Homo sapiens: one gene and its partners. The protein of the gene in region 1 purifies or fractionates together with the protein of each later gene. This does not show direct contact. Each region holds a gene or a part of one and is shown in the gene's direction. Other genes may lie near its edges. The genes, in order: SPRTN, ATP1A1, ATP2A2, CAD, MAGED2, SPTLC1 and NISCH.

Region 1 (3,500 bases):
AAATGCTTTTGTTAATTTTGCACAGAAACTTGTGCATCTTTGGTGTGGAATGAGCAGTAGGTTTTAGTGTTTGTTTCAAGTTTTCATGATTTCTGAATCAAAACCCAAAAGCTGTAGAAAGCTATACACAAAGATGTCTTGTTCAGTGTCCTCCTCTATCTTGAACTCCTTACTTGCTGTAGGAGCTGTTAGTTTCTTTTCATTTTTCTGTTTTGCAAATATTTCTATTCATTTTTATTCCTCCTCCCCACCATACAAAATTTTTCTTACACAAAATACTATGTACATTCTTCTGTACTTTGTCTTTTTCTTTTTCTTTTCTTTTCTTTTCTTTCTTTCTTTCTTTGTTTCTTTCTTTTTTTTTTGTTGCCCAGGCTGGAGTGCAATGGCATGATCTCGGCTCACTGCAACCTCTGCCTCCCAGGTTCAGGTGATTCTCCTGCCTCTGCCTCAGCCTCCCGAGTAGCTGGGATTACAGGCGCCCGCCACCATGCCTGGCTAATTTTTGTGTGTTTAGTAGAGACGGGGTTTTACCATGTGGGCCAGGCTGGTCTTGAACTCCTGACCTCAGGTGATCCACCTGCCTCGGCCTCCCAAAGTGCGGGGATTACAGGCATGAGCCACTGTGCCCAGCCCCCTGTCTTTTTCATTAATACGCTCTATAGCTTTCTCCAAACCATTTCATGTAGATCCTTCTCATTCTTTTTTGTGGCTGCATAGAATTCCATTATATGGATGTATAAAACACTGGAGTTATTTCTAATCTTTTGCTGTTATAAGCAGTGTCACAGTGAATACACCTTGTGCATATGACCTTGCATGCTAGTCTAGGTATTGCTCTCTCAGAAGACAAATGCATTTGTAATTTTGTTAGATGCTACCAAATTTTCCATAGGAGAATTGCACTCCCACCAGCAGTATATAGGAATGTTTATTTTCCCTTAGCTTTACTAATGGTGTCAAACTTTAGGAGTTTTACCAATCTTGATAAGCAATAAATAACATCCTAGTGTAGTGTTGGGTTTTTGTGGGGGTTTTTTGTTTTTTGAGACAGGGTCTTGCTGGGTTGTCCAGGCTGGAGGTAATCATAGCTCACTGCAACCTTGAATTCATGGCCTCAAGTGATCCTCCCATCTCCGCCTCCTGAGTAGCTAGGACTACAGATGCACAAGCTAATTGTTTTATTTTTATTTTTATTTTTTTGTAGAGACAAGGTCTCACTATGTTGACCAGGCTGGTTTTGAACTCCTGGCCTCGAGCAATCCTCCCACCTCAGCCTCCCAAAGTGCTGGGATTACAGACATGAGCCACCACGCCTGACCATCCTAGTGTAGTATTAATTCGCATTTCTCTTTTTATAAATAAAGTTGGGCATTTTTTCTTTTCTTTTCTTTTTTTTTTTTTTTTTTTTTTTTGAGATGGAGTCTTGGTCTGTCATCAGGCTGGAGTGCAGTGGTGCATTCTCGGCTCACTGCAACCTCTGCCTCCCAGGTTCAAGCAATTCCCCTGCCTCAGCCTCCTGAGTATACTGCTCGGACTACAGGCGGGCGCAACTATGCCCAGCCAAAATTTTTTTTTTTTTTTTTTGTATTTTAGTAGAGACAGGGTTTCACCATGTTGAGCAGGATGGTCTCAATGTCCTGACCTCGTGATCCGGAAGTTGGGCGTTTTTTCATTTGTTTGTGGGTCATTTATACTTCTTCTGTGAACTCCATGGTCTTTGCCCATTTTGAAATTGGGTTGTCATTCCCTGTTGACATTAGGAGCTCCTTGTATATTAGGAATAGCCTGTGATAAGAGTTATACATATATTTTTCTGAGTTTGTCTTTTTACTTGGTGTTTTTTTCCTATAGAATTTTAAAGTTTTGTCTGGGTGCAGTGGCTGACGCCTATAATCCCAGCACTTTGGGAGGCTGAGGCGGGCAGATTGCTTGAGGTCAGGAGTTTAAGACCATCCTTGCCAATATGGCCAAACCCCATCTCTACTAAAATACAAAAATTAGCCAGGCATGGTGGTGCACACCTGTAGTGCCAGCTACTCAGGAGGCTGAGGCACGAGAATCACTTGGACCGAGGAGGCAGAGCTTGCAGTGAGGAGAGATTGAGCCACTGCACTCCAGCCTGGGCAACAGAGTAAGACCCTGTCTCAAAAAAAAAAGAATTTTAAAGTTTTTATGTAGTTGAATTCATTGATTTTTCTGGATTTTGATATATAGTCAAAAAGGTCTTCCTAGAACAGGGAGTTCTTAACCTGTGATTTTCAGAGCTTTAGATGTTACACAAATTTGAGTACCCCTTCTCTGAAATGCCTGGGACTAGAAGTGTCTTGGATTTCAGATTTATTTGGATTTTGGAATATTTGTGTTATTCTTACAGGTGGAGCATCCCAAATCTGAAAATCCGCAATGCTCCAATGAGCATTTCCTTTTGAGTGTCATGTCATTGCTCAAGAGTTTCTGATTTTGGAGCATTTTGGATTTTCAGAGTTGGGATGCTCAACTCATATGCAATATTTTGTGAATGAGTGCTTATATAATTTTTATAGAATGAGGTGGGTTTTTTGTTGTTGTTGTTTTGTTTTTGTGAGACAGTGTCTCATTCTGTCCCCCAGGCTGGAGTGCAGTGGCACAATCACAGCTCACTGCAGCGTCAACCTCCCCAGGCTCAGAGGATCCTCCCACCTCAGCCTCCTGAGTGTAGCTGGGATTACAGGCATGCACCACCACACCTGGCTAATTTTTGTATTTTTTTGTAGAGACAGGGTTTCGCCATGTTGCCCAGGTTGGTCTCCAACCCCTGGGCTCAAGTGACCCTCCCACCTTTGCCTCCCAAAGTGTTGGGATTACAGGTGTGAGCCACTGCACCCGGCCTAGAATGAGTTTTATCAGTTCTGAAGGAAGCCTGTGATACAGAAAAGGTTAGACACCAGATAGAATAAGAAAATTTATATTTTCCAAAGTGTCATACAGACTCTAAAACTAATTTGAATATTTTATGTTCCAGACCCTCCTGCATGAAATGATACATGCCTATTTATTTGTCACTAATAACGACAAAGACCGAGAAGGGCATGGTCCAGAATTTTGTAAACATATGCATCGCATCAACAGCCTGACTGGAGCCAATATAACGGTATAGAAAGCCATATCTATTTATGATGTTTAGTAGTTGTTTATTCAATAACTCCTGAGATTTAATTAAAAGTAGAGAACTAGGTAGAAACAAGTATCTTTGAGGATTTTCCACAGCGAACGAGAGGCCTAGAGAAGCAAATTGGCTTGTCTGGGACTACATGGTGGAATGGCAGCAGAGCCAGTGATATCCCTGAGGCCTCTGACCTCTTCTGAGTCAACATTTTACACACAGGTAATTCAGGCCTGCAGTACGTCACTTCTGGAATCATCATGATCTCTTAACTTTGTTTCCTTATTATTGTCTTTTTTAGTCCATCCTGTATCCTGCTACCATTGCAGATGTCATTCCCTCATCAGAATTCTTC
Region 2 (3,500 bases), about 110 Mb from region 1:
CAGAGTGCCTGGGCACGTTTTTATCCAGTAACCTAGTCTGGTAGACAGTTAACAAGTGATCCTATGAACCTCTATGTCTTGTTGACCTTCCTCTACATCTTTTAGGGGCAATCCTCCTATTTGTTTATTTGCCCCCTATTATTTTGAAAACAATAAGTGCTGAAGAAATGTTCAGCGTATTGGGCTGTGAGAAACAACGTCCTGATGGTTTGCTTCTGACTTGTACTTAGACCTTTGGTCTCATGCTAGTCAGTTCTGTTTGTTTAAAAAAAAAAATGGTGGAAGAATATCTTTCTTATCTAACCTTTGTTGCTGTGGACATGACTTATAAGCCTAATTAAAGTTAATTAATTCTTAGTGTGTCTAAGTTAGACATACTATTTCCTGACTGCCTTGGAATGGGTGTGAATTTACATGAGCACTTATGTGCTCAGCTTAGAAACTAGACTAACGGTAAACTTTTAGTCTAAGATGCTACCTATTTTTTTCTACCCTGACAGCTACTGAGGCTGAGAAGTTCACTTTACCCATTGTCTAATGTATTTGGGAAAGTGGCATTTATAATACTTTGTAGGTTGACAGATACTACATTCATTATTTATATAATGCTTCCTATTCTTCTTAACTTGGGTAAATCTAACTCATGGTATCTTTCGTATGTGTCTATCCAACCGAAGGATTGCTATCTTCTCTTTAAGTGTTTTTCACTTCCCTACTTCCACCACCCCAAAGTGGAAGCAGTCTCTCTTCTTTTGAGTCCACATGGCACGTTAAAGATCATTGTAACGTCATACAACATTGAAAAGAATGTCTTACATTATCTTGATTCTTGTATTTACTATACTAGATGATAAACCCCCTGGGCAGAATGCATCTGATCTGTACTTATCCTCAAAAGTAGCTAGCATGATGTCCCACATTGGTGCTCAGTAATATGTTTCAGTTAAATGAACAAGAGAGCAGAGGTATGGCCTTGATGTTTCCAGAGAAGGCAGCTGAGGCAGATAATTCCATGATTTGCCAAATCCAAATAACTTAATGTCATCATCAGTGGGCAAGTCTAGAACCCTAATATCCTGGTGCTCAAAATTAGTGTTATCAATTCAGTCTTCTCCACATTAAACAATTTCCAATTCCTTTGAGGCCTGGTGTGATGGATTCTGTCTTTCAAATGCTTTTTTTCTTTCAGTGACTCTATCGTTCATAAATGTTAAATAAAACCCTCACTCTGTTATAAAAATATAGACTTTAAAAATTTTCCAAAGTAAACACTCCAGAGAAAGGTAGGCGGGCTGAATAGGCTGCTGTTGTCCTTCTTACTGCCCAGCGTCACTGAAATTTTCAAAGGCTCCTGTCCTCCTCGCAGGTTTCTGCCACCTCTTTCTGCCAGATGAACAGTTTCCTGAAGGGTTCCAGTTTGACACTGACGATGTGAATTTCCCTATCGATAATCTGTGCTTTGTTGGGCTCATCTCCATGATTGACCCTCCACGGGCGGCCGTTCCTGATGCCGTGGGCAAATGTCGAAGTGCTGGAATTAAGGTAGTGCCCAGGCGCCTCCTTGGCTTCATCTCTTAGTGCCTTGGGACACCCTACTCAGTGAATGTTGCCTTTTGAGGTCCAGATGGCCAGCTGTTCTATCTCACCTGGAGTATTAATTTCTCATCTCCAAAGCTTTACTTCCACCCAGAAAAGACCAGATAGTATTAAAATATGATGGTGTAAACACACGAGGAATTAAAAATTTTTTGGAAAGCAATTGTGTAAAAAAGAAATGTAAGCAAAGTAAAAACAGCAAAAGACTTGAAGTTTTAAAATACTTGCATTATTCTAAGTTAATGTACCTTATGCAATGAATGGCATATCTTCTGTGTTTTCAGTTAACTGTTTGTTAATGAGTGTTTGGTGTCCTCTGTGTATCTGTCTTTTTTTAAGTAGCTGAATATTACTCAAGTGCACTAATATCCTGTTGCTGGGTATTTGGTTTCTGTTTTTTACTCTCAGGATTTTATTTTATTTATTTTTTGAGACAGAGTCTTGCTCTATTGCCCAGGCTGGAATGTCATAGCACGATCTCGGCTCACTGCAACCTCCGCCTCCCAGGTTCAAGCAATTCTCCTGCCCCAGCCTCCCAAGTAGCTGGAATTACAGGCACCCGCTACCACGCCCAGCTAATTTTTGTATTTTTAAGTAAAGATAGGGTTTCGCCACGTTGGCCAGGCTGGTCTCAAACTCCTGACCTCAGGTGATCTGCCCACCTCAGCCTCCCAAAGTGCTGGGGTTACAAGCGTGAGCCACCACACCCGGCCTACTCTCAGGATTAATACTGCCCTGAAAAGCTTTGTAGAAGTTATTTCCTCACCATTCCGACTGCTTCTTTTTAAAGTATATTCTAAGTATAATCACTGCATCAAAAAATAACAATTTTGAATTCTTGTCACATGTTGCTTTTCCTCCAAGTTGTGCCAATTTGAGAATGCTAGCCAGTAGCATGTGGTGTCTTCACAGTCCCACCAGCATCAGATTTTTATCCTTTTTTTTTTTTTTTTTTTTTGCTGGTTTTAGTAATTTTCAAGTATTTTTATGTAACTCTGTAGAAGGAAAAATAGACATTGTGTATGCTAGTGATTGTATACCAAGATAAAACCTGAGTATTGCCTTTGTGTTTCCTTTCTGTGGATATATATGTTTATATTTTTGGCTAATCGATGTTTATTAGTTTTATATTTGCATTCCTTTCCTTTTGATAGTCTAAGCCGAATCATCCTTAGTATTTACTCTTGCCTACTGGATATAAGACTTTAAGGTCATTTACTTGGCAGTTGCATTCAACACATTGTCTTGTTTATTACAGGTCATCATGGTCACAGGAGACCATCCAATCACAGCTAAAGCTATTGCCAAAGGTGTGGGCATCATCTCAGAAGGCAATGAGACCGTGGAAGACATTGCTGCCCGCCTCAACATCCCAGTCAGCCAGGTGAACCCCAGGTAAGGCAGGAAGCTCAAATCACAGTCTGCTGTGAACAAGCAAATAGTGATGGTTTAAAATCTTCAGCGTGGTTCTATAATGGTTTGCATCTAGGCTTGCTCTGAGTAGGAAATGTACCTGCACTGCCAGAAAGCAACCTTGTCATTCCTAAGAAGGGTTTTAAGTAAGAGCAAGTCATAATAATTAGCACTTAGATGGTATTTACTGTTCTAAGAGCTTGATATGGTGACCTATTATTTGCAGAGCAGGGAAGGTAAGGATTCAAGAGGCTTTTGAAGTACCTCAGAACTGGTGAAATCATGCAGTAAATTCAGCAGTCTAGCTTCTGATTTCATGCTGTTAACCACTGAGCTCTACTGCCTAGCACCTAGCATCTTGACACTTTCCAGGTCCACACTAACAAAATAAAATAAGGAAGGGACAATTACTTAGGCCATTCAGGCAAACACAGGAGACATTTGGCAATGAAGTAAAACAGATAATAGCAAATTGGTTTTGTTTTAAGGTT
Region 3 (3,500 bases), on another chromosome or scaffold:
GATAAAATAAATAATTTAAACCTGCTGTTAGAAAAGTAACAACTGAATAAATAATGCAATAATTATACAGCTGGATTATTTTGTATAATTCACTTTCCTTAGGTTTTGCTTAAACAACTTGGTACAAGTCTATTCCAAAAGGTACACATGACTCATACAGAGTAGACATTTGTCACATATTTTATTCGGCTCATTAATTAGCAAGGGAATCTGTATTTGAGGAAGTGTTCAATATTAGAATATTAGAATAGGGATTGCTAGGTTAGATTACAAAACTAATGTCTTACAGGGAAACCTCATATAACATGAGCATTTATTTAGTAACACAGTGTTACATTTTCCTAGAATGGGCTTGTTAAATAATGCTTCTGTATGATATTGAAAGGGTGTAGTTATCTTGGCCTTTTTGTCAGGTTTTAGATAATTATTTTTAACATCGGAAATTGTTTTATAATCAGTTAAGCCCTGTGAATTTTTATCTTGCCAATTTTAAGCTCATGATGATTTTTTAGATACAGGTTCTCCCTCCCCCGCAAGCTCCTTGTGAAGTCCAAACCCACATTTAGAATTGACAGAACTGGGGTGTTCCAACTTTCAAAGTGGAAAGCTTCTAGGTTTGTCTTAGGTTTCTCCAGGATATTAAGGTGTTTGAGCTACTTAAGTTCTTATTTTTTGGAACCAAAAGGTTGGATGAATTGGCTAAAAGTCAGTTTTGTCATACTGGTTGTTTCAGGAAGAGAAAGGGAATTTTCTTATTTACGATTTTGTGTCTCACTTAGCCTGAAAGCTTTAATTCCTCAGAATAGTCTTTATGTCTGTGAAAGTAAGCCATGTGTAAAGCCATGTGTAAAATTGTAATTTTTAAAATTTCAGTTTCCCAGTTCACTATAATTTTTTTTTGTTCTTTTCTCCCTTGAATGGCTTGGCTTAAAATGTTTTCTTATAATAAAGAAAAAGCCTGCCTGTTCTGAGTGAAGCTCTACCTCACAACAGGAAGCTGGTGCTAATTGGTATTCTGCAGGAGGCTTCTTGCAGTGGTATTGCATAACTGCCCTTGACTTAGGAAGATTTTCATCCTGCATATCCTAAATGGTTGACTTGCTCACAGTCAAAAATGTCTAAGTACATTTAGATTTAGCTAATGTAGATTCAGATTCTGAATGTCTTTTAGAATATTTTGGGCTTTGGTATAGACTCAAAGAATTTCACATTTTTGGCTGGGCACAGTGGTTCACGCCTGTTATTTCAGCACTTTGGGAGGCCGAGGCGGGCGGATCACCTGAGGTCAGGAGTTCGAGACCAGCCTGACTAACATGGTGAAACCTCGTCTCTACTAATATTACAAAAATTAGCTGGGCATGTTGGCAGGCGCCTATAATTTCTTTGGGAGGCTGAGGCAGGAGAATCACTTGAACCCGGGAGGCGGAGGTTGCAGTGAGCCGAGTCGTGCCATTGCAGTCCACCCAGCCTAGGCGACAGAGTGAAACTCCACCTCAAAAAAAAAAAAAAGTTATTTTAAAATAAAGATTAACTAATTTCCTTATTGAATGTGAGATGAATTGCTCTGAAAAGATGTGTTTTTAAAACACAACATAGCTTTGTTGTTGCTGTTATTACGGAGTTTTGCTCTGTCGCCCAGGCTAGAGTGCAGTGGCGCAATCTCAGCCCACTGCAACCTCTGCCTCCCGGGTTCAAGCACTTCTCTCCCTCAACCTCCTGAGTAGCTGGGATTACAGGTGCCCACCACCACGCCCGGCTAATTTGTTATATTTTTAGTAGAGACGGGTTTCACCATCTTTGCCAGGCTGATCTTGAGCTCCTGTCCTCATGATCTACTCACCTTGGCCTCTCAGTGCTGGGATTATAGGCGTGAGCCACCGTGCCCAGCTCAACGTGGCCTGTTTAACTTGAGTTTTACATTTTTTAAATTCCCCTTAGAGAATGATTTGATCAGATTATTAATTGCTCATATTTCAGAGAAAGCACGAGAAAATATAGTTTTGACATCACTTTCTGTAATTTTTTCTTTTTAGAGGAGGTTTTACAAGTTTTCATTTGCAATGAAAACACAAGCCTAAATCTTACTTTTCCAAACTGGGCTTCTGAATTATAATTTGTGAATGCAAATCAAGCAGTGGAAAAATTATCTTTAAGAAAATAGCTTATGTCGCTTTAAAAAATAAAATTAATCCTTTCCTAAGCATGCTTCCATCTGTATTGTCTAGGGAACATCAATTCATTCAGCTCTGCGGGCTCCTTACTGTATACATATAGTTATGCAGCTTCATAGAACATGAGCTATTGCCACAATAAAAATAAGTGGGAAGGAGCAGAGAAGCAGTTTGTCTTATTTTACTCGGGAAATGTTTATGCAACTCTGAAATGTGAGTTTATTCTTCCCAAGCTTTTGTGCTTAGCTCTAAGGCAGGACTACCTAATACCACTCTCACAGCCAGCCATTTGAAATTTGGGATTCTGAGCAATCTAAAGAGTAACTTGTCTCTGGAACTGACCTTTTGCTGACCGGGAGTCCTCATAACTTGGATTTTGTGTGGGTTGTTGTGTCTTTGGTGCCACTGCTGCTCATTCATTCAGCACCTCAGTGATGCTGTTTTTCATACTGTTCGATTGGTCGGGGGTGTGATGGGCGAAGCAGTCTAATATAATTAAGCTAGTTAGGGTAAGGGACAGTACTGCTGATGCTGAGTGAGCCTCAGTGAGTTTTATTAAAGTTGTTTTCGTAAATGAAAGAGGTTGTTTGCCTTTGTCCTAAGCTAACAAAGGTAGTTTATTTGTGTAGCATTTTTTAAAAATCCCTTTTAAATACTCTGATGCGCTCTCCCCCTACAGATGTTCATTCTGGACAGAGTGGAAGGTGATACTTGTTCCCTTAATGAGTTTACCATAACTGGATCAACTTATGCACCTATTGGAGAAGTGTGAGTAACCCTCCTCCTCATTTAAAGGATCTGGTGTGGCAGTTTAGTATTTGTATTGATTTGCAGCATGTCTACAAAGTTAAGACAGCTTTCTGAATGTGGCTCAAGTCAACACTTATTACTAAAGTAGTAAATGTTTTTAAAACAAAAACTTTGAAAGATGAACCAAAGGTTATAATCCAGTCATCTTTTTGCATCTTCTGGGCTCCAAACTTTCAAGAGGGATTTGTGTTTGTTATTCACTGTAGCCAGTGGTGGAAGAATTGAATTAAGAATTTCTGGTCTTTTTACTGATTGATTTCTGATACCAGAGATGCATTCTCTCTTTTGTTTTTGTCTAATATTGGCTCTGGCATCAAATTGTTTGGAATTTTTTCCAGTATGTTGTCCCAGAAATTCTGTTTTCATTATTAAACAATTGCGGGGGGGCAGGGGGCGGGAGGAATCAATAGTGGCGACCATACCCTGCTCTAAGAGTGTTTTCTCTTTGGGCAGGCATAAAGATGATAAACCAGTGAATTGTCACCAGTATGATGGTCTGGTAGAATTAGCAACAATTTG
Region 4 (3,500 bases), on another chromosome or scaffold:
ATGGGGATATATTCCAGTATCCCCATGCCCGTTTTAGGCATATTGATTCCATATTCATCAATAAGCACAAAGCCTGAGCTTATCCATGAAAATAGCAGGGAAAAGAGCTATAAGTTAAGATTTCTTTTTGTTTGTTTGTTTGTTTTGTTTTGTTTGAGACGGAGTCTCGCTTTGTTCCCCGGGCTGGAGTGCAATGGTGTGATCGCTGCTCACTGCAAGCTCCACCTCCCGGGTTCACGCCATTTTCCTGCCTCAGCCTCTGGAGTAGCTGGGGCTACAGGCGCCCGCCACCACTCCCGGCTAATTTTTTTGTATTTTTAGTAGAGACGGGGTTTCACCATGTTAGCCAGGATGGTCTCGATCTCCTGACCTCGTGATCCTTCCGCCTCAGCCTCCCAAAGTGCTGGGATTACAGGCGTGAGCCACTGCGCCCGGCCATTAAGATTTCTTAGTTGTGAAACACCATGAATCCCACCATCATGTGACTTGCCTTGAGAATCTCCCAGAGTCTTGACTATAAACCATAAGCATTATGGGCAGTGCCTTCTTCCCACCCCTTCCACCTCCACACCTTCATTCCTTCCATTCTGTTCTTCCAGGTGAAGTCATGGGCATTGGGCGTTCATTTGAGGAGGCCTTCCAGAAGGCCCTGCGCATGGTGGATGAGAACTGTGTGGGCTTTGATCACACAGTGAAACCAGTCAGCGATATGGTAAGTAGCTCCCCTCCCCTGGCAATACCCCTAAAATAGACCCTGCTTCTCATCGCCCCCAGACCATGAGCTTGTTACCAGTAACACTAGCAGCAGTCATCATTGGACATTTGCTTTGTTTCCACTTTGCTGAGAATTTTGAGATGTCTCATTAGCACGCAAGGGTGTATTACTAGACTTGTTTTTACAGATGAGGAAACTGAGACATAGGTTATAGAAATTACTCAAAGCCACATAGCCAATGAGAGGTAGACCCAGGATTGGTATCCAGGTTTTTGCAGTTACACAGCCTGTGCTCTGGTGTACAGTTTCCCCTTCCTGAGACAAGAGCAGCTACTTACGCTCAGGCTTTTAGATGGGCTGGCAGTAGCTTCCGTCTGTCTACCCCCTTTCTATCAGGAGTTGGAGACTCCAACAGATAAGCGGATTTTTGTGGTGGCAGCTGCTTTGTGGGCTGGTTATTCAGTGGACCGCCTGTATGAGCTCACACGCATCGACCGCTGGTTCCTGCACCGAATGAAGCGTATCATCGCACATGCCCAGCTGCTAGAACAACACCGTGGACAGCCTTTGCCGCCAGACCTGCTGCAACAGGCCAAGTGTCTTGGCTTCTCAGACAAACAGATTGCCCTTGCAGTTCTGAGGTCAGAGGTGGCAATGAGAGCTTCCGGCTGGGAAATGTGGGGCAGAACCTTTGTATCAGTGAGGGACCCTTGGGAGGGAGGAAGGAGAGTGTGGGAGAGCTTTAGAGGCTTCTGACCTTGGTTCCAAGGATATTTCCTCTCATCTGTGCCCTGGGGTCTCAACCCTCTATCAGTCTGTACCCTACTCTCTGGGCCTGTGTTTCAGACCCTTTTTCTATTTTAGCACAGAGCTGGCTGTTCGCAAGCTGCGTCAGGAACTGGGGATCTGTCCAGCAGTGAAACAGATTGACACAGTTGCAGCTGAGTGGCCAGCCCAGACAAATTACCTATACCTAACGTATTGGGGCACCACCCATGACCTCACCTTTCGAACACCTCATGTCCTAGTCCTTGGCTCTGGCGTCTACCGTATTGGCTCTAGCGTTGAATTTGACTGGTGTGCTGTAGGCTGCATCCAGCAGCTCCGAAAGGTCAGAGAGTTCATTTTCTTTCCACTTTCCTTGCTATTCTGTTCATCTCTAGCAATTGCTTGGCACTAATCCTGGCATTTCCTATTAATTGCCGTCCCTTACTTTGGTCATAGAGCTTTGGGGTGGGGGTCCTTTTAGGCCATCTCTCATGCCCCACACGGTATATGAATCTCTTCCCCAACACTTTGTACCTCCTTCCCTCCCAAGGCAGGGGTCCTGTACAGCTCTTTCAGAGGAAGCTGTGCTGGCAGTCTCTGAAGTAGGGGCTTTGGCTTAGTTTCTCCACGATTTTCTCCACGATTTTCCTCCCACCTGACTGCTAAGTACCCTTCCCCTCCCTCTTGCAGATGGGATATAAGACCATCATGGTGAACTATAACCCAGAGACAGTCAGCACCGACTATGACATGTGTGATCGACTCTACTTTGATGAGATCTCTTTTGAGGTGAGGGAGATGGAGGCTTCCTGGTAGCTTGAGTGGCCAGGGTCGAGTAGAACAGCTGGCTGACCTAAGATTCTTTGAAACTTGGTGGCGGCTGAGGGAAGCAGTGAGCAGGAAGGCTCAGATTCCTGCCCTCTTTTGCTGCCACCACTTGTTTCTCCCCCTGCAACGTAGGTGGTGATGGACATCTATGAGCTCGAGAACCCTGAAGGTGTGATCCTATCCATGGGTGGACAGCTGCCCAACAACATGGCCATGGCGTTGCATCGGCAGCAGTGCCGGGTGCTGGGCACCTCCCCTGAAGCCATTGACTCGGCTGAGAACCGTTTCAAGTTTTCCCGGCTCCTTGACACCATTGGTATCAGCCAGCCTCAGTGGAGGGAGCTCAGTGACCTCGAGGTGGGCTGGGACCTGGTGGGTTACCCGGAGGCTGGATGATGCTTGGGGGAAAGTGTGAACAACTCAGCTAAGCTCCCTGCCTCCTGTAGTCTGCTCGCCAATTCTGCCAGACCGTGGGGTACCCCTGTGTGGTGCGCCCCTCCTATGTGCTGAGCGGTGCTGCTATGAATGTGGCCTACACGGATGGAGACCTGGAGCGCTTCCTGAGCAGCGCAGCAGCCGTCTCCAAAGAGCATCCCGTGGTCATCTCCAAGTTCATCCAGGAGGCTAAGGTGGGAGGCTGCAGACAGTGAAGTCTCTGAGGGCATGCTGCCAGCCCTGGAGGAGACTTCCTTCTCTGGTCCAGCAGAATCATAGGCACCAGGGCTGGGAACAGTGGGCTATGTGGGGCTCGTTAAAGGAAGAGACAATCCTAGAGTAAGTGAGAGAAGAAAGTGGCCCTATGTCCCACTGTCTGTGTCCCCCCGCTAGGAGATTGACGTGGATGCCGTGGCCTCTGATGGTGTGGTGGCAGCCATCGCCATCTCTGAGCATGTGGAGAATGCAGGTGTGCATTCAGGTGATGCGACGCTGGTGACCCCCCCACAAGATATCACTGCCAAAACCCTGGAGCGGATCAAAGCCATTGTGCATGCTGTGGGCCAGGAGCTACAGGTCACAGGACCCTTCAATCTGCAGCTCATTGCCAAGGTAATAAGGCTAAAGGAAAGAACTAAAGGGCCACAGCTCTTGCATGTTCTGTGCTGGCCACAGTGCCATGAAGCCCTGCACTGTCTCCTGCCTTCATCCAAGTAGGCAGGGAAGCTGGAGGGAAAGGGCTGTAGCTAGAGCT
Region 5 (2,886 bases), on another chromosome or scaffold:
GATGCATGTGTCTATGTGTGTATGTATTTGCATATTTGCATGTATGCAGGTGGGATTATTCCTTGGGCGGTGATGGGAAACAGGAGCAGCACATGTTTCCTGATCTGTTACATATACCTCAACATTTGTCTTGAGACCAGTTCTGCAAGGGAGGGATTATCATTACCATCATTGTACGTATGCAGAAACTGAGGTTTAGAGAGGTGAAGTCATTTGGTCAGGGTTACACAGGTAGCAAGTAGAAGAGTTATGTTTAGAACTTGGCTCCAAAGCCTTAGTTCTTTTTATTCTGCTAACTAGAGCTTCATAGAAATTAATTTCCGTAAAGAAATGACATAGAATGGTAGCTTCAGGCAACCAGGTACCATGCTGGGGAGTTGACTTGTACATCTCATTTCATTTTCATAACTACCCTGCAGCTGTCATCCCATCCCCGTTTTACAGTTGAGGGACCTGGGGCTCCGAGAAGGGAGATCTGAGCATGGCCCACAGCTGGTATGGGCCTGGAGCCCAGTCCTCTTGAATTTCTGGCCAAAGCTCACCTATCCTTGGTCCTTGGAGGACATGCAAACACTCACACAGCCACACGCATGTGCACACAGAAACACACACAAAGGGTCAGGAATTCAGCATGTGTGAAGCATGCTGCTATTGGCTGTTCTTCCTCTGTAGTCTTTCTGGTCATTTTCTGTGGTGGACCTTTCTGGGCTTGGCCAGGCTGAGGCCAAGACACTTGCAGTGGGGTGTGCTCAGAGCAGGGGGCCCAAAGAATGGCTCCTCTGTTTACAACACACCCAACAGGAATCTGGGGTCATTGTGATGAGGGCGTCAAACTTGTGGCTTCCCTATGAACAAACGTCCCCCAACACCTCTATGTGGCTTCTGGGCAAGACCAGTGGGACAGGGCTCAATATTGGAAGAAAGACTGTAGTAATTAGTGGATGATGTTGCCATCTGGAGCCTGTCCAGTCTATGCATGGGTAGGCCATGAATGGTCTTAGAAATAAAGGCTTTGAACCTCTCTTTCCAAGGTACCTGGACTATGCCAGAGTCCCCAATAGCAATCCCCCTGAATATGAGTTCTTCTGGGGCCTGCGCTCTTACTATGAGACCAGCAAGATGAAAGTCCTCAAGTTTGCCTGCAAGGTAATTGGAGAGCTCCTTGAGCTTGGCAAGTCAAGAGCATGGGGTGCCCCTGGCTGGGGCAGGCTGTGTGCAGAGCAGCCTGCAGTTCAAATCTGAATGTTTTGGTGCTTCTGTTAATTGTCAAAACACTGTAACAGGCACTTTATCTGAATCATTTAAGCCTTACAACCTGATATGTCATTGCCCTGTTACAGATGAGAAAACCGAGGCCCAGAAAGGTTGGTAGGTGACATGTCCAAAGTCATGGGGCTAGGAAGTGTCAGAGCAGGGATGGAATATTAGGTGCATAATTACTGGTAATACTGTATTATTACTATTATCTTTTTATACTAAGCATGTAGCATAGTGCCTAGCATAAAGGTAGATGCTTAATCCTCTTATGCTCCTTCTGATGGTTATTTACATAGTAATACTGTATTATTACTATGGCTTAATCCCTCTATGCTCCTTCTGATGGTTATTTTTGTTTCAGGTACAAAAGAAGGATCCCAAGGAATGGGCAGCTCAGTACCGAGAGGCGATGGAAGCGGATTTGAAGGCTGCAGCTGAGGCTGCAGCTGAAGCCAAGGCTAGGGCCGAGATTAGAGCTCGAATGGGCATTGGGCTCGGCTCGGAGAATGCTGCCGGGCCCTGCAACTGGGACGAAGCTGATATCGGACCCTGGGCCAAAGCCCGGATCCAGGCGGGAGCAGAAGCTAAAGCCAAAGCCCAAGAGAGTGGCAGTGCCAGCACTGGTGCCAGTACCAGTACCAATAACAGTGCCAGTGCCAGTGCCAGCACCAGTGGTGGCTTCAGTGCTGGTGCCAGCCTGACCGCCACTCTCACATTTGGGCTCTTCGCTGGCCTTGGTGGAGCTGGTGCCAGCACCAGTGGCAGCTCTGGTGCCTGTGGTTTCTCCTACAAGTGAGATTTTAGGTATCTGCCTTGGTTTCAGTGGGGACATCTGGGGCTTATGGGGCTGGGATGAGGAGCTGGATGATTCTAGGAAGGCCCAAGTTGGAGAATGATGTGGAGAGTGTGCCAAGACACTGCTTTTGGCATTTTATTCCTTTCTGTTTGCTGGATGTCAATTGACCCTTTTATTTTCTCTTACTTGTGTTTTCAGATATTGTTAATCCTGCCAGTCTTTCTCTTCAAGCCAGGGTGCATCCTCAGAAACCTACTCAACACAGCACTCTAGGCAGCCACTATCAATCAATTGAAGTTGACACTCTGCATTAAATCTATTTGCCATTTCTGAGTTTATTGCTTTTTTTGGCGGGCTGTCACATTTTGGTATCACATTTAAAAATCAGTGAGTTGGGAAAGTTTCCACCTCAGTCTGTGTTTAGTTTGAGGTGATATTGTTGGATTCCCAGGAGCGAGATTAACACACCTTTCTGGGATAGATTGGGCCTCACGTCTAATTGTTGGATTCCCAGGAGCGAGATTAACACACCTTTCTGGGATAGATTGGGCATCACGTCTAGCCTTCAGGGTGGTGGGATTTTAGTGGGGTGGAGTTCAAGAGATTGTAGTTACAGAGGACACACTTTGAAGGAGAGGCTTGAGGTCGGCAAGTCTAGAGCAGAAAGTGTAAGTAGAGGAGACTGGACATCAAATATAGAATCCCTTTTTGAGAAATTTGAATGAGGAGAGAGAGGGGTACAGAGCTAAATGGAGATACAGGAACAAGGGAGCATTTTCTTGGGGAAGGAGAGAGAGACTTGAGTAGGGAGGAGTCAACGGAGAGGGAGAAGT
Region 6 (3,500 bases), on another chromosome or scaffold:
TATAGTTGCTATGTCTTTCCAGAAAGGATTTGTGGTGGCTCAACCATGTGTGTTAAAGCATTTTCTGTAATGTAAGGAAATCAAGGGGAATGAATTATTAGGGTAGGCAAAATATGGGGAAATCTAGAAATAAAGTCAGTACCCAAATGAAGACCATATTATGGTCTTGGATACTTTGCTAGGAGTAAACAGCAGTCTTGCAAATAGATGGTTAGAGGGAAGCATGGGCAACTACTGGAGTTTGAATATTCATAAGTGTTGTGTGAGTTGCTGCAGAATAGCACAACTATTTCTGAAGTATGGGATAAAGATTCCCCTGTGGTCTTCTTAAAGGAGAGTCAGAGTAGAAAAGAATCCTACTCATACCCATCTCAAATTGAATTTTTATGTGTATGGTAAATCAAAAAAGAATTCTGAGCATAGAAGTTAAATTTTCATAAATTGTCAAGTCACCCACAAAACTACATGGAAAAGAACCTCTAGCTCTAGTGATAAGGAAAGAGGCGAGGGTGGTTAGTGCACAAAACTCACAAGTGATTGTTTTTATTCTAGCCACAACGAGACATGGTATTTCTAGCAGTGTATTCACTGTGACTTTTGCATTGCAGCAGACAATTTTGATATTGCCGAAGTTGAAGTAAAGTGACTGCGCCTGAAAAGCTTCAGGGGGTTTGAATAAGGATAGCTATAATAACAAGTGCTATGTGGCTTACGGAGGAATGAGTGATAAGTGATTTTAAATCAGTTTGTCTTAGACAAATAGAGCTTGTTATAACTATTCCTCATAAGGATAGTATGAGGAAGGGGTAGGATATATATTCTATTAGGGGGCTGAGGATGAGGGTAAGTCATATGATACCGTAGCCTCCTAACTACTGAGCTGGCAATAGAGACTTCTATGTGGGCTTTAGGGAGTCATAGGTGAAGTTCGTATAGGGGTATTTTTACTATAAAAGCCATAATACATGCTAGTCATATAAGGTTGTTAGATCAGAAGTTTAATAGTTCTTGATTAGTAAACATTATTATTAGGATATTTAGTGAACCTGAGCTATTTCAGGTGTGGATGAGTGTAATAAGTAAGGGAAGGGATCCTACTAGTGTGTAAAATAAGTATGAGCTTGCATTAGGCATTCTGGTTGGTTACCTCAGCAGGTAATAATGATTAGGGTAGGGATGAGTGTAGCTTCGAAAAGAATGTAAAGTATGACTAGTTCTGTGGCTGTAAATGCTGTAATTTAAAAAAGTTGTAGGAAAATTAATTTGGAAATACGGAGTTTTTTTCCATAAGGGTGATTCATTAGATAGGTGATGTTGGCCTGCTAGGATTATAAGAGGTAGTAGTCAGGCTGTTTGGATTAGAAGAGGTGATGTTAATGCGTCAGAAGAAAAAGTTAATGAGAAGTTAGATGAATTATTGTTTGGTTGATTAAAAAATAATAGGGTAATGAGGCTGATGAATAGGCTATGAGTAGCTATATTCAGACTATAGAGTTTTTGGAGAGTTATATTGTAACAGTATAATTGTTGGAATAATAATTTTTGGCATTGGAGTAAATTTAGATTTTGTACATAGTCTAGGCCTTATGCGTTGGAGATTGAGACTAGGAAAGCAAGGCCTACTGCGGCTTTGCAGGCAGCAAATACTAAGAGGATAATGGGTATTATGAATCCTAGAGTGAAATGCATGTTTAAAATTATGAGTGTATTTATGATAAATATTGATAGTATGATGCCTTCTAGGCATAATAGAGATGGTATTAGGTGGGATCGATAGATTAGTACTCCCAGCAGTGCTATGGTATATGCTAATATAATGTTAATATAAATAAATGGCATTTGGTAAATATGGTCTATCATAATCTAATGAGTCGAAATCATTTAATTTAAACTATTTACCAGTTCAACTCAATCTAATCCTTTTTGGGTTCATTCATAAATTAGGCCTAGGATTAGAATGGTAATTAGTAGAAGGGTTGTACTGATTATTAGTATAAGGTTATTTGTTTGAAGGGCTCATGGCAGGGGTAGGAATAGGACGATTTCTAATCGAATAGGAGAAATGTGATGGCTACTAGAAAGAATTTTATGGAGAAGAGGAGGTGGGTAGAGGTTAATGGATCAAATCTACATTCATAAAGGCTGGATTTTTCTATGTAAGTATTAAGTTATGCAAGTCAAAATGTAATTACTACTAATAATAGAGTTAATAAAGTGTCAGTTATTAGGGCTAGTGCTAGGTTAATTACTCTTTTTCAGACTTTGTCGAAACTAGTTGATTGGAAGTCAGTGGTACTGCTTATACTAAAAGAGTAGTAGGACCCTCACCAGTAGATAGAGACACATGGGAATAGTCATACGACATCTACAAAGTGTCAATATCAAGTGGCGTCTTTAAAGCCAAAATGGTGGTTGGATGTAAAATGAATTTTTTTTTTTTGAGACAGAGTTTCGCTCTTGTTGCCCAGGCTGGAGTGCAATGGCGCAATCTTGCCTCACCGCAGCCTCCGCCTCCCAGGTTCAAGCGATTCTCCTGCCTCAGCCTTCCCGAGTAGCTGGGATTATAGGCATGTGCCACCACGCCCAGCAAATTTTGTATTTGTATTAGAGACGGGGTTTCTCCATGTTGGTCAGGCTGGTCTCGAACTCCCGACCTCAGGTGATGTGCCCACCTCGGCCTCCCAAAGTGCTGGGATTACAGGGATGAGCCACCATGCCCGGCCTAAAATGAAATTTTAATTGGCAGAGAAGGCAGATGGTGAGAATTGTTGATCCAATAGTAACATGAAGTCCATGAAAGCCTGTGACTATAAAGAATGTTGAGCTGTAGATTCCATCAGAGATAATAAAGGGGGCCTCGAAATATTCTGAGATTTGTGGAAGGGTGAAATAGACTCCTAAGAGGATTGTGGTAAGTAGTGCTTGAATTGTTTGTTTTTGGTTACCTTCTGTTAGGCTGTGATGGGCTCAAGTCACTGAAACTCCTGATGCAAGTAATATAGACGTATTTAGGAGAGGTGCTTCTGAAGGGTTCAGGGGAAGAATAGCTGTTGGGGGTCAATGTCCTCCTAATTCTGGGGTTGGTGCTAAACTGGAGTGATAGCATGCCCAGAAAAAACCGGCGAAGAAGGATACTTCTGAGATAATAGGAGCATCCTGTATCGGAGGCCTTTTTGGACAATTGCTGTGTGGTGGCCTTGGAATGTACTTTCTCGGACAATATCACGTCATCATTGATATATAGTCAGTGTGTTGGTTAGTAGGCCTAAAGTTAAAAGAGTGGTAGAATTAAAGTGAAATCCTATGGTTAGGCCAGATGTTATTAGGAGAGCCGAGAGAGCTCCTGTTAGTGGTCAAGGGCTAGGTACAACTCTATGGTAGGCATGTGTCTGGTGGGTCATTATGTATTATGCGAACAAAGACGTACTAATAGTGTGAAGACATAAGCTTGAATAAGAGTGACAGCGAACTTGAGAATAGTTAGTAGAATTAGAATAATA
Region 7 (3,500 bases), on another chromosome or scaffold:
CTCCAGCCTGGGTGACAGAGCGAGACTCCATCTCAAAAAAGAGAAAAGGCTAGAAAAGGCATCACCAGGTCACCAGGGCAAAGGCCCTTTGGGCTTGAAAAGCATTGCTCCTAAAGCAGGGCCAGGACTTAATTCTAAGTGGCTGTTATGTGGTAAATTGTTCAGCTTTGAACGATTTCACAATCGTTTAAAGACATAGGAACCAAAGGCATGCTTTAATGCAAGTTTACTTCCACATGCTAAATATGCTCCAGCCCTTCCTTAAATTCTGCAACGACTGTGTTCCCAGTGAGTGTTGCGTGAGGGCCCGAGTGTGGTGCTCCACACAGATGTTTTTATGCAGGAAGTCCTTGTTCCTGAAGCCTCAGAATTTGATGAGTGGGAGCCTGAAGGCACAACCCTAGAAGGCCCTGTGACTGCCGTCATCCCCACTTGGCAGGCATTGACCACGCTTGACCTGAGCCACAACAGCGTCTCCGAGATCGACGAGTCTGTGGTATGCTCTCAGCAGCAGGTGCCAGGGGTTTCTCTGGCCCCACCAAACCCTGAGTTTGAGTATTTAACTCAGCTTTTTTAGGAAGGACCACGGAAAACCTATATCTAGTGCTCTGTGCATTGCCTGCCATTTTAAGTTAATTACAAAATGGGGGCTGGGCGTGGTGGGTCACACCTGTAATCCCAGCACTTTGGGAGGCCGAGGCGGGAGGATCACTTGAGGTCAGGAGTTCGAGACCAGCCTGACCAATGTGGTGAAACCCCATCTCTACTAAAAATACAAAAATTAGCTGGGTGTGGTGGTGCACACCTGTAATCCCAGCTACTTTGGGAGGCTTAGGCAGGAGAATCGCTTGAACCCGGGAGGCGGATGTTGCAGTGAGCTGAGATAGGGCCACTGCATTCCAGCCTGGGCGACAGAGTGAGACTCCGTCTCAAAAGAAGAAAAAAAAATGGGATCATTTAAAATTGGTGAGGTAGTACTTAGAACCAAATAAAACATAATAATTTCATGTAAATTTGGTAAACTATAACACACTAAATGATGACATTTGCTCCAAAGAGTGGAGCAGAAAAATCACTCCTTAGATGACAGATGTGCCCATGAAAGAATGACACCCAGAGGGCATTTGGGCAGTAAGAGTGTCGTTCCCGTGTTTGCGCTGCTCAGGGAGTGTGGGCAGGGTTGAAGAAGAACAGACTCTCTTCTCTGTCTGGGACCTTGCTGTGTGTCATTTTCACAAGCCAAGTGTTCCATGAAAACTGAGTAGTGCCCAGCACTGGGGGCCCTGTGTGTGCCTTTGGATGTGCTACTGGCTGGGCAGCGGGAGATGTCCCACCAGTGGTCCTGCAGGGACGGCCCGTGGGAGTCCATGGTCGGGAGGAAGCGTCCTGGGGTGCCCGTCCACTGTGTCGGGGACCGTGTTTGGGGTCCAGCCCCCTACAGTAACATCGGGTGTTCTTTTCTTTCACAAGAAACTGATCCCAAAGATTGAGTTCCTGGACCTGAGTCACAATGGATTGCTGGTTGTGGACAATCTGCAGGTAGTGCCTTTGGAGACCAGTGCTGCCCGCACACACTCCCAAGGCCCCGCCCTGAGATTTCAGGAGACTGACGCAGCCTTGGGAATTGGCCAGGGGTTGTAAGGGCAGGGGTTGCTGTCTTCGCTTTAGGATCCCAGCAATGCACTGAGTGATTGTTGCTCTAGTTCCAAAGAATTAGGAAGCATGAGTAAATACAAACCAGGCATGATGATGCACCTCCGTCCTGAAGGTGGACAGCCATGTTTTCAACGCCCACCCCAACTGTCTGCAGGGGTGCCACTGTGCTGTGGCATGTGCGGCAGAGAAGAGGGACTTCCCTTCCTAAAATAACTGTCAGAGTGACTTGCAGAACTGGGTAGTTTGGGTTGGAAGGCCCATCCTGCCATTAGTGTCAGGCCCCTATCTTTGGAGACTTGACCTGAGCCACTTTACGCTGTTCTCCACGCCGCTGCAGCACCTGTATAACCTTGTGCATCTGGACCTGTCCTACAACAAGCTCTCCTCCTTGGAAGGGCTTCACACCAAGCTGGGGAACATCAAGACCTTAAACCTGGCAGGCAACCTCCTAGAGAGTCTGAGTGGCCTGCACAAGCTCTACTCACTGGTCAACCTGGATCTCCGGGACAACAGGATCGAACAGGTGAGCCCAAGGACCTCACAGTTTTGGGATTTCTGTGCCTTGGTGTGTATCATGTTAAAGAAGAATGTTAAGATTCCTTTCATTTAAAAGAGACCATGAAACGTGTTGGCGTGTTGCTGAAGTGTTAAGAGAAGGGACCAAAGGGGATGGAACTCATACCTTGCAGATGGAGGAGGTCCGGAGCATAGGCAGCCTCCCGTGTCTGGAGCACGTGTCTCTGCTGAACAACCCTCTGAGCATCATCCCCGACTACCGGACCAAGGTGCTGGCTCAGTTCGGAGAGAGGGCCTCAGAGGTGAGCCCCAGCACAGTCAGAAGAGCCCAGGGAGACCTTCGGGATGCAGTCAAGTCTGCATGGGCGGTAGGGGGATATATGTCCATTGTTCTACCCTTGCCTGCTTCAGAAAGAGGTCCTGTCCCTTAGGGGCTTTTCAGTTCTGGGAAGTCCACTATCTCCCCAGGAAAAAGCTCCCTTGCATCTCCTGCCCCTACTGTCTGGGATAACATTGTTTATTCTAGGAAAGGGTCAGAAATAAGATCCTTAAAATATTCATATCTCCTGGACAACCTGTGGCCATAGTGCCTGACTGTAAACCCAAAGGGTTTGCCTTTGCCAGTGTAGCCCAGCCTGGTGTCTGCTGCCCCTCGCGGTGTCTGTGCACCTGCCACGATGCTGACCAGACACCCTTAACCAGGTTCACCCATCGCCTGGGCCTGGAGCAGTCCCCGTGATGCTCTGATTGGTCCTTGGACCTTCTGTTCTCCCAAAATCCCAGGTCAGAAAATACCTGGAAGTCTATTTGTGTCCCACCTCCCTCTTTGTGGCCGCAAGTGCCCCTTCCTCCACACAGTCACAAGACCATGAGATGCCATCTCCTCCCCTCCTGGGCTGCAGACTTTGGGAAGCTCCCAGGCCACAGAGTGTCAGCTCCTGTCCAGGCCCTTGGGACCTTCCCTCATTCAACCACCCTACCCAACCCCCCACTGCCTGCCAGCCACCACTCCCTCCCACATTTGCAGGCGGGGGCCCTGCCCTCTCCTGCCGCTGGTTCCCCTACCCAGGAGGCTCTCCCATCGCTCTTTTGAGAGTCTGCCTCCCACCTCTAACTGGGGGCTTAGTTCAAGTTGCCCCCTTACCCTAGTCCCAGCTGCCCAAGAGCTTGCTGCCTCCTGTTCTTGGTGAGGGACTCCAGAGACAGATGTGAGACCTCCCTGGACCCCTCCAAGGCATTCCCAGGTCACTTCCATGAGTAGTGAAGAGCCGCCTCTGAGCAGGCTGAGCCTCCCTCAGCCTATGGTGTCCTCACGTGGCCTGGCCCAC

The links.
Region 2: the proteins of SPRTN (region 1) and ATP1A1 purify together in Homo sapiens (affinity purification with mass spectrometry, with the first as the bait; 2 studies listed by BioGRID). This does not show direct contact.
Region 3: the proteins of SPRTN (region 1) and ATP2A2 purify together in Homo sapiens (affinity purification with mass spectrometry, with the first as the bait; 2 studies listed by BioGRID). This does not show direct contact.
Region 4: the proteins of SPRTN (region 1) and CAD purify together in Homo sapiens (affinity purification with mass spectrometry, with the first as the bait; 2 studies listed by BioGRID). This does not show direct contact.
Region 5: the proteins of SPRTN (region 1) and MAGED2 purify together in Homo sapiens (affinity purification with mass spectrometry, with the first as the bait; 2 studies listed by BioGRID). This does not show direct contact.
Region 6: the proteins of SPRTN (region 1) and SPTLC1 purify together in Homo sapiens (affinity purification with mass spectrometry, with the first as the bait; one study listed by BioGRID). This does not show direct contact.
Region 7: the proteins of SPRTN (region 1) and NISCH purify together in Homo sapiens (affinity purification with mass spectrometry; 2 studies listed by BioGRID and IntAct, with this or other methods). This does not show direct contact.

Annotation. Positions count from the first base shown.
Region 1 is NC_000001.11:231,344,793-231,348,292, forward strand, and holds part of SPRTN (DNA-dependent metalloprotease SPRTN), read left to right. Parts: intron 1-3,004; coding exon 3,005-3,133; intron 3,134-3,500. UniProt on the Homo sapiens protein: DNA-dependent metalloendopeptidase that mediates the proteolytic cleavage of covalent DNA-protein cross-links (DPCs) during DNA synthesis, thereby playing a key role in maintaining genomic integrity.
Region 2 is NC_000001.11:116,393,744-116,397,243, forward strand, and holds part of ATP1A1 (sodium/potassium-transporting ATPase subunit alpha-1), read left to right. Parts: intron 1-1,366; coding exon 1,367-1,542; intron 1,543-2,854; coding exon 2,855-2,991; intron 2,992-3,500. UniProt on the Homo sapiens protein: This is the catalytic component of the active enzyme, which catalyzes the hydrolysis of ATP coupled with the exchange of sodium and potassium ions across the plasma membrane.
Region 3 is NC_000012.12:110,329,747-110,333,246, forward strand, and holds part of ATP2A2 (sarcoplasmic/endoplasmic reticulum calcium ATPase 2), read left to right. Parts: intron 1-2,850; coding exon 2,851-2,939; intron 2,940-3,434; coding exon 3,435-3,500.
Region 4 is NC_000002.12:27,230,869-27,234,368, forward strand, and holds part of CAD (multifunctional protein CAD), read left to right. Parts: intron 1-599; coding exon 600-712; intron 713-1,111; coding exon 1,112-1,356; intron 1,357-1,579; coding exon 1,580-1,826; intron 1,827-2,173; coding exon 2,174-2,272; intron 2,273-2,443; coding exon 2,444-2,668; intron 2,669-2,757; coding exon 2,758-2,940; intron 2,941-3,139; coding exon 3,140-3,358; intron 3,359-3,500. UniProt on the Homo sapiens protein: Multifunctional protein that encodes the first 3 enzymatic activities of the de novo pyrimidine pathway: carbamoylphosphate synthetase (CPSase; EC 6.3.5.5), aspartate transcarbamylase (ATCase; EC 2.1.3.2) and dihydroorotase (DHOase; EC 3.5.2.3).
Region 5 is NC_000023.11:54,813,630-54,816,515, forward strand, and holds the end of MAGED2 (melanoma-associated antigen D2), read left to right. Parts: intron 1-740; exon of another isoform or gene 741-871; intron 872-1,031; coding exon 1,032-1,146; intron 1,147-1,618; coding exon 1,619-2,053; 3' UTR 2,054-2,061; intron 2,062-2,251; 3' UTR 2,252-2,386; downstream 2,387-2,886. UniProt on the Homo sapiens protein: Regulates the expression, localization to the plasma membrane and function of the sodium chloride cotransporters SLC12A1 and SLC12A3, two key components of salt reabsorption in the distal renal tubule.
Region 6 is NC_000009.12:92,108,914-92,112,413, reverse strand, and holds part of SPTLC1 (serine palmitoyltransferase 1), read left to right. Parts: intron 1-3,500. UniProt on the Homo sapiens protein: Component of the serine palmitoyltransferase multisubunit enzyme (SPT) that catalyzes the initial and rate-limiting step in sphingolipid biosynthesis by condensing L-serine and activated acyl-CoA (most commonly palmitoyl-CoA) to form long-chain bases.
Region 7 is NC_000003.12:52,476,104-52,479,603, forward strand, and holds part of NISCH (nischarin), read left to right. Parts: intron 1-343; coding exon 344-496; intron 497-1,470; coding exon 1,471-1,539; intron 1,540-1,993; coding exon 1,994-2,179; intron 2,180-2,345; coding exon 2,346-2,474; intron 2,475-3,500. UniProt on the Homo sapiens protein: Acts either as the functional imidazoline-1 receptor (I1R) candidate or as a membrane-associated mediator of the I1R signaling.